2 separate regions of the Homo sapiens genome follow, and region 1 is linked to region 2. Evidence: fine-mapped expression QTL. A gene starts in region 2. The other region holds a variant in brackets. All regions are shown on one strand. Distances are from middle to middle.

Region 1 (4,388 bases), 6.8 kb before region 2:
CATATATTTTTAATATATTGTTTTATATGTATAATAGTTATATATCATATATGAAACTATATAATATACAGAAATATAATAATAACAGAAATAGATCTCTTTTTTTTTGGGACAGGATCTTGCTCTGTCACCCAGGCTAGAATGCAGTGGCACAATCTTGGCTCATTGCAACCTTGACCTTCCCGGGCTCAAACAATTCTGCCACCTCAGCCTCCTGAGTAGCTGGGACTATAAGCACACACCACCATGCCTGGCTAATTTTTGTATTTTTTGTAGAGACAGGGTTTTGCCACGTTGCCCACGCTGGTCTCGAACTCATGGGCTTGTGATCTGCCCGCCTAAGCCTCCCAAAGTGCTGGGATTACAAGCGTGAGCCACTGCACCCAGCTGAAACAAAGACATATCTGACTGTTGCTTGTGGAGGTGCCTGCCATTCCTCCCTACAGTGATTCACAGGCTCACCCAGCCTCTCCTTCTCCTTCAAGCCCCAAACCTCTGAATGCCAGGAAGGGTGGTAAGAAGTGTCTCTGCGCCTAGTACCAGTAAAGTTGGCAGGTCACTGTGGCTAGCGGGGGCACCATTGTTGGCCTCGGGCCTGGGGAGAGAAAAATATGACATACAGGGGGCCCACGGGGGTACGTTAGGTTCAGCCCTGTAAGCCCACACTGACCCTGGTGGGCAGACCCAGCCCAGGGAGGGGCAGGCAGGAGTGACCCCGTCATCAGGTTCTGCTGGCGAGCCCAGGGTGGTGACAGGCGCACGTCTTTTGCCGGGAGCTGAAGACGTTCATGGGCTTTCAAGCAGGACAAAGCTTCAATGTCATCACCAGGTAGCAGGCAGAGCAAGGGTGCTGACAGCCTGCAGAAGCCTGTGCTTATCTCTCCATCGGAGCTAAAGCCCATGTTTGCTTAGGGAACAGCCTGAAATTCCACCCCAGCTGCTGGGCCTTTCACTTTTGAAACATAAGCCCAGAGAGCGAAAGGGGGGAACGTTGTGCCCAGATTCTCTTTCTGAGCGTGAACTTGATGTTCCTGACCAGGAACCAGCCACTCGTACCGAAGGCCTTCCTGACCCCTCAGTTCTCCCCTGAGCCTTTGCTGTGTCCTGGGCACCAAGAGGTGGAGATAGGCTGTCACCGTGCACGTTTCCTAAGCCTGCAGAGGAACTGTTCACAGAATCCAGCCTGGAATCAGCCGTTTGTGGCAAACAGTCAGTAGCTATTTCTCAACTTGTGGTTGTGAAGCTGCAGGCTCCATATTCGCTCTTCACAGAGCATCCAAGCAGGTGTCTCAGTGCCAGCTCACACCGTTCACACTGCTCACACCAGCTCTGGAGAGCTGCTTGTACACATCTCTCCACAAGTCCACTTTCAGTGTTGCCACGTGGTACCGGAAATTTGCCATAGAAATTGGCCGATGGTACGACCAGAGAGCCACCTGTTAGATAGTTACCCCACATCCCCACCCTCAACACCACCTTAGACAAATCCTACTGTCAGAACATGTGGAACGGAGAAGGGACCTTGGCGGTTCATTCATAAATGTCAGCACCCATAGGTCTGTGCCTGTTTGGCCGCAGACACTGGGGAGCAGCCTGTAGCCTTGGCTTGTGCAGCTTCCTCTGCAGGAGGGGTGCCTCTTCCAAGAAACCTGTCCTGACTCCCCAGCCCTCCCCACCTCCATTCTCGCCCCCGCTGGACAATGCACACCCTCCATCAGAGCGTGGTGCATACCTTTCATCCTAGATCTCCCACCAGCTTTGAAACCAGCATCCTGTTCATGATGTCTGGAACCCTGGGAACTGTCCCAGCACCTGTTTAGCACATGTGTGCATGCGAAGGGGATCTGCTGAGTGCTCTGCTCTGGTGGGAAGGCCGCTCTGCACAGCTGGAGCTGATGCCTTGGCAGATGCTGGGCATCTGAATCGTGCAGTGCAGGAGCACAGGGGCATGGCACCGTTTGTTGCTGGGGAACCTAGGCCTCAAAAGGGCCTCAGCCTCTCCGCAGTGCAGTGAGGACTGTCCCATACTCTCACTGCGTACAGAGTATGGGAGAGTCTCTGTGAGGCTTTGGGTGCCCTGCAGAGGGAAGGCAGTGCCAGCTGGGCCTGGTCGGGGGCCATGGAGATGGCGGGCCCAGGCTGGGGAGGACTTGTGGCACCCACTCCCTTACCCGC[T/C]AACCCGGATCCCCTGGAATCTGCAGAATGCCTGGGGTTGCTCCTCTTCTACCCTGCCGTGGCTGAGCTTTGTCTGTGCCCTGTCCTCTGGCCACGGTCTTTGCCTGATCCCTACCCTGGTACAGGCAGAGCTCCCTGCAACCCCCAGCTGTTTCCCCAGAACTGACACCAGTCTCCCTGCACCACCCATCCTCCTTTTGACTGCCCTGGGGACGCCACTGCTGCTCTGATCCTCTGTCACTCCAGCCACCTCTTGCTTCCCTGTTATCACAAACACTGAACAGTGAGCTCAGGTGTCAGCCTCCACAGAGGCATGCACAGCAAGGGGTCCGGAGGCATGCCCCATGGAGAACTGGGGGTGCTCTGCTTGCAGGAGGATCCAGGGCCCATTGCAGTCCTCAGATGTTCTGGGGGAGAGGATACGCCTGCTTCATTTCTTCTCAGGGGTCAGAACTGGGCACAGGGGGTTGGAAGGAGGGAGAAAGATGTCTATCAGGTACCCACTGCATGCCAGGCCCTCTTCTAGGCTCCCTTAAAACCTTTCAGGTAGGCCAGTCACGGTCGCTCATGCCTGTAATCCCAGCACTTTGGGAGGCCAAAGCGGGTGGATCACCTGAGGTCAGGAGTTTGAGACTAGCCTGATCAACATGGAGAAACCCCGTCTCTACTAAAAATATAAAATGAGCCAGGCATGGTGGCACATGCCTGTAATCCCAGCTACTCGGGAGGCTGAGGCAGGAGAATGGCTTGAACCCGGGAGGTGGACGTTGCAATGAGCCGAGATCACGCCATTGCACTCCAGCCTGGGCAACAAGAGTGAAACTCCGTCGCAAAAACAAAAGACAAACAAAAAACACCTGTCAGGTAAATGGTGGTAGAGCAGAAAACCTGGGCTCAGAAGCTGGCATTGATCCCAGAGCCATCCAGTTTCAAAGCCCACACCCACAACTTTCCTCCAGGTTGGGCAGTGCATGATGGAAAGGCTGTCCCAGCAAGTAGTGAGTTCACTTTCACCAGTCCCTGGAGGCAGGAGCAGAGCCTGAGCTGACCACTTGGAAGGAGATGTTATTCAGGGGACTCGAGCATCTGGCGTAGGATGGGACTCCATGAGGTCTATGCCTCCTTCTAGCTCTGAAACTCCTCAAGGGAAACCATTTCCCAGATCTCTACGTTGCTGCAGTCCCTTCTAACTTCCAGCACACCTTCTGCTCTCTCCGCAGGTGTCGTGCGCCAGGTGCGGCCCATCGTGGGCCCATTTCATGCCGTCCTGAAGCTGGAGATGAACTATGTGGTCGGGGGCGTGGTCTCCCACCGAAATGTTGTCAACGTCCACATCTTCGTCTCTGAGTACTGGTTCTGAGGGCTGGTCTGCCGCACAGCCGCAGGTGCACCTCCAGGCCAAATCATTGCTGCCAGTGACTGTGGTCTGTACTTGTTTATACCCTCAGACTTTTTTAATGTTAGGTATTTGTAGCATTAGGCCAACATGTATTAAGCTGAGCCAGATGAATAAGTCCATCTGATGTATTTTCGGTGTTTAAAAAATGAGCCCAGTTGCTCAACTGTTTGGTTGAAAACCTTGCTCATTTTTTAATGCGAAGGCTAAGTGTCACCCCCTTTCTCTGCCTCTGGCTGGGCCTTGCTAAGGGCCAAGGAAAGAAAGACATTTTTTAGGGGGCAGCCAGTCCAAATGCCAAAAGAAGACCAGTTCTTGCCCTGATTGTATGAAATTTGACATTTTGGCACTTTTTTTTTTTTTTTGGCCAATCAGATTTTCTATGTTCTAAGGACATGGCTGCTGTAGAATAGCACAGACGTGGATGATAAATTATCCCCAGAAGCAGCATGACAGAATGCCTCGGGGAGCACTTGGAAGGGAAATTGCAGTTCTGTTGAAATAGAGGAAAATCCCTTGGTAAAGACACAGCCTGTTAGGCTCGTGTGGGCCTCCAGTATGTTCACCAGGGGAATGGCTGGGATTTCTCGGCACTCTGCATCATCCATCTTTTCTTATAGGTGGGAAAATAAACAACTTTGTGATCCTCCTGATGGCCTGTGCATGAGAGTCTTTCAAGAAGAGGGCTCTCTGCCAGCTCAGGAGTCTTCCGCCAGCTAAGGGACTGGAAATCTCCCCCCGCCGTCCCCCTGCCTCACCCCACCCAAGGTTGTCTCAGTGCTCCTCCTGCCCCTCAAGGTTCTGGGGCGGGGCCCAG
Region 2 (4,388 bases):
AGAGACACCAAGTTGAATCCTTCTTGTTGATCTGGTAGAAGAAACTTGGAGGGAAGGTCCCAGAAGGTGTCATAGAGTGGTATTCGACCAGAAAGCTGCCTGTTTTTTTTTTTTATTCCTAAGGGACATCTATTCTACTGTACAGAGGAAGTCTGTGGCATGTGTCAGAAGTGCCTGGGCTGCCCAGGGTCCTAGCAGGACCCGTTTTAACATGCAGGTGGGCATTGAGTGGAGGGTGCCAGGGCCCACCCAGCCAACCCAGCCAAGCCAGCCAACTAGAATTCGAGGAGGTAAGCCAGCTTTTCCAAAGTTCTCAAGTTTGTCCAGGTGAAAAAACACCTGGAAATCAAGGGTTTTTTTCCTAATATTGTAACATGAAAATTTTCAAATATACAGCCGAGTTGAAGGAATTTTACAGTGAATACCAGGGCACCTTCCACCTAGATTCTGCCACTGACATTTTATGAGATTCAGTTGCATTTTGAAGAAATGACAATATGATGAATTAATAAATACAAATAAGAAACTTACAGTTTCTTGTAGGCTTGCGCTCAAATCCAGCCACTTACTAGCTGTGTGTCCTTGGGCACATTGCTTAATGTCTCAGAGCCTTGGTTTTCTCTACAACGAAATGAAAATAAGGACACATACTTCACAGGAGTGATTGTTAGGATGAAAGGGGATGATTACGTAAAACAGTGCAAGAACTGCTACACAGGAGGTCCTCCATAAATAGTACTGTCATGACACACACACCCGAAAGGATAGTCTTTATTCAGTTAGATGCCACATTTTATTAAAGTCTTGTGTGGACAAGAAGTGAAACCTCAGAGGAATTTATGAAGAATAATTGGAGGCACTTCCTTGTGACTTGGCTTCATCCGGACCGGATGACTTCTGGGTGCCAGCAACAGTTCCCCATTTCCATTCACGTTTCCCCACATCGTTCATGCCAAAGAGATGGGTGCCAAGAGGCCATCCGTCTTCATCCTGGACATAGAATGAGACGGGAACTCACTCTTGAAGGACTTTTGAAGTCTCAGAGAAGAAACGGAGCCACCGTAGACCTTTTGAAATACGGCCTGTGAGAAGCACGGTGACAGTCACCATTACTACCAATAATCACATTACTCTTTGTGGGAAAAAAGACCTACTATGTGCCAGGAAGGCTTCGGTAATCATCTCCAACACACACACATTCTCTCACACACACATGTGCGCATGTGTGCACACACACACACACCACACACACACACACACACACTCCGCAGCCCTTCTGCCATGCCCAGCTCAGGGCCATCTTCTCCCACAAGGATGCCGGTCTCATCTCCTGAAATGAGGTTGCAGTGAGCCGAGATTGAGCCACTGCACTCCAGCCTGGGTGACAGAGCGAGACTCCATATAACCTCTGCCTCCTGGGTTCAAGAAACTCTTGTGCCTCAGCCTCCCAAGTAGCTGGGATTACAAGCGCGTACCACCACACCCAGCTAATATTTTTTGTATTTTTTAGTAGAGACAGGGTTTCGTCATGTTGGCCAGGCTGGTCTCGAACTCCCAACCTCAGGTGATCTGCCTGCCTCAGCCTCCCAAAGTGCTGGGATTACAGGCATGAGCCACCGCGCCCGGCCTGATCTCAGTCTTTAAGAGAGCAGCAGCTCATCTGTGGCCACTGCTTCCCAGGGACTTGCCAGAAGGGAGGTGCAGGGCACAGGGAAATAACCCACCTCTATCTGACGGCTTCAATGGTATCGAATGTCCTCAGTGGCAGCACGCAGCACAGAAGCTGAGGTGTGGCTGCATTCCATTTGGAGAATTCCACTGTGATTCATGGTGTCAGCTGCGGGTTCAAGGTGTCACAATTTAATTATTAAACATCATGAGGCATTAGGAGGCTTGGGCACGCACTGATAAGTGATCCATTTCTAACACAGCTGGTTTATTACTGTTTGTGGCAGCTCCTGCACGAATTGGTGTCCGTTAACTAAGCAATGGTATTATAATTACACATTTAAATTATGTATGGGAAGGGTGTCAGTGGTAGAAGTCAGACTGCAGTGATTACTTTCAGTCTTCAGACCTCCTGGATGTAGTCTCTCTGCAGATAGCTGTAACTCTGGCTTGTTTTCTGCTCATTTTCTGCAGACATGTAGAATCCACTGCTAGGGTCCACTGAGCTGTCTTCTGGGTGGTTTTTGGTGCTGCAGGAGATAAACACATGTGTCTTCCTGGTTGGACCCAGTTGATGCACTAACCTAATTCTGTCCTTTGCCTGCCCTGATCTCCATAGCCTGCTTCTTCCTGGAAATTTGCTGCTGCTGCTGCTTCTTTTTTTTTTTTTTTTTTTTGAGACAGGGTCTCGCTCTGTCGCCCAGGCTGGAGTGCAGTGGCGTGATCTCAGCTCACTGCAGTCTCTGCCTCCCGGGGGTTCAAACCATTCTCTCTGCCTCAGCCTCCTGTGTAGTGTGGATTACAGGCACCCCCCACCATGCCCAGCTAATTTTTGTATTTTTAGTAGAGATGGGTTTTCACCGTGTTGGCCAGGCTGGTCTCGAACTCCTGACCTCAGGTGATCCACCCGCCTCGGCCTCCCAAAGTGCTGGGTCTACAGGCGTGAGCCACCGCGCCCGGCCGGAAATGTGCTTCTTTAGAGGAAAGCACCGTTGATCCCACCTCCTTGATCTGGTTTCTAAGACCTCATACAAACTGGGCCCGTTAGTCTTTGCTCCCTGATACTATCTGATACCATCTGGTCTCACTCCTTCCTTCCCATCTTGTTCATTCATTGGTTCACTCATTCATTCACTCACTTCACGCCCTCCCTCTGGTGAATCAGTTCCCCTCTGTCCTCCCCACTCTGTCCAGTCCTCCCCTAGGCTGCCAGGTTACATTTCCAAAACTCCGATCTGATCAGGCCCTCTTGGTCTCAGATCCTCCAAGGGCTTCCTTCAAGGGCTCCTGCACCAACCTCGTGGTGTGGCTGTGTGACATAATAAGAAACATTCACTTCTATTTGGTCTCTTTCCGGGTTCCTGACACAAAGCTCCTAATCCCTTGTCTTTGGTTTAATGAGGTGACTCTCAGTGGCTCCTGGGTGGGGTTGGGGGCTGAGCACCAGAAAGACCCAGATTCGACGAGGAGCCTGGAGCTTTTGGCTCCACCCCCACCCTCCAGGAAAGGGAGAGGGGCTGGAGATTGAGCTAATAATCCATCACGCGTAAGTAATGAAGCCTCCGTAAAAATCCCTGAACTACAGGATCCAGAGAGCTTCTGGGCTGGTGGACACATCCGCATGCTGGGAGGGTGGCGCCCCCCAACTCCACGGGGACAGAAGCTCCTGTGCCCGGGCCCCACCAGAGCTCGCCCTGTGTGCCTCTTCGTCTTCCTGTTCATCTGTATCATCAATAATGTCCTTTACAAGGACATTATTGTCCTTGTGATAATGAATGAGGAAGGAATTATTCCATTCAGGAAGGAATGAGACCAGATGGTATCAGATAGTATCAGGGAGCAAAGACTAATGGGCCCAGTTTGTATAAGGTCTTAGAAACCTATACATGTAACCAAAGTGTTTCCCTGAGTTCTGTGAGCCATTTTAGCCAATTACCAAACCCGAGGAGGGCGTTCTGGGGACCCCTGATGTGTAGCCAAGTCAGACGGAAGTGTGGGTAACCTGAGCGCCCAATCTTTGCAACTGACATCTGAAGTAGGGACGGTCTTGCAGGACGGAGCCCATATCCTCTCGGGCCTGTGCTAACTCTGGGTGGCCAGCGTCAGAATTGAACTGAAGTGTAGGACGCCCAGATGGTGTCTGCAGAGAGCTGGCCGGGCGTGGTGGCTCACGCCTGTAATCCCAGCACTTTGGGAAACCGAGGCGGGCGGATCACCTGAGGTCAGGAGTTGGAGACCAACCTGGCCAACATGGTGAAACCCCATCTCTACTAAAAAAAATACAAAAATTAGCCAGGCGAGATGGTGGGTGCCTGTGATCCCAGCTACTCAGGAGGCTGAGGCAGGAGAATCGCTTGAACCTGAGAGGTGGAGTTTGCAGTGAGCCAAGATCGCGCCATTGCACTCCAGCCTGGGCAACAGAATGAGACTCTGTCTCAAAAAAAAAAAAAAAAAAAAAGCGGGACAGACAGGGGTGGGAAGTTGGGGAGGGGGCTCTGGGAGGGGGAAGATGTGGGTGCCCCATGTGGAGCTAAGAATGGAGGAGTGGCAGGGGGCACAAGGTCACAGAACCAGGCTGAGGAAGAAGAGGTTGCCTGGAGGGTGGGACCCAGAAGCTACTGAAATGTCGCAGCAGAAATGGCCATTGAACGCCCCTTCTAAGGTCCTCGGTGGGAAAGTCAAGTCCTAACATCCTACATGGGGAAATCTACGCAGTTAGC

Alleles and levels. Positions count from the first base shown, and alleles are read on the strand shown. Sizes are in standard deviations (SD) of each study's normalised expression.
As copies of T replace C in region 1, the expression in lung of the gene that starts at base 1,971 in region 2 goes down (small effect, 0.28 SD a copy in GTEx).

What was found. PIP is the estimated chance that this variant, and not a neighbour inherited with it, causes the effect. A credible set is the group of variants that fine-mapping cannot tell apart.
Region 1: its variant is the best candidate, but not a certain one, in a credible set for the expression of LINC01589 in lung (GTEx, PIP 0.50).

The regions. Positions count from the first base shown.
Region 1 is chr22:45,596,912-45,601,299 of GRCh38, forward strand. FBLN1 (fibulin 1) reads left to right here. Exons shown (of 17, transcript NM_006486.3): 17 at 3,396-4,224. The coding sequence ends at 3,535. Among named protein-coding and RNA genes, the nearest start is that of LINC01589, 6.5 kb to the right of the region's middle. The variant T/C (reference allele first, on the strand shown) is at 2,176.
Region 2 is chr22:45,603,677-45,608,064 of GRCh38, forward strand. It overlaps LINC01589 (long intergenic non-protein coding RNA 1589), which reads right to left and starts at 1,971. Exons shown (of 2, transcript NR_131244.1): 1 at 1,725-1,971; 2 at 756-1,082.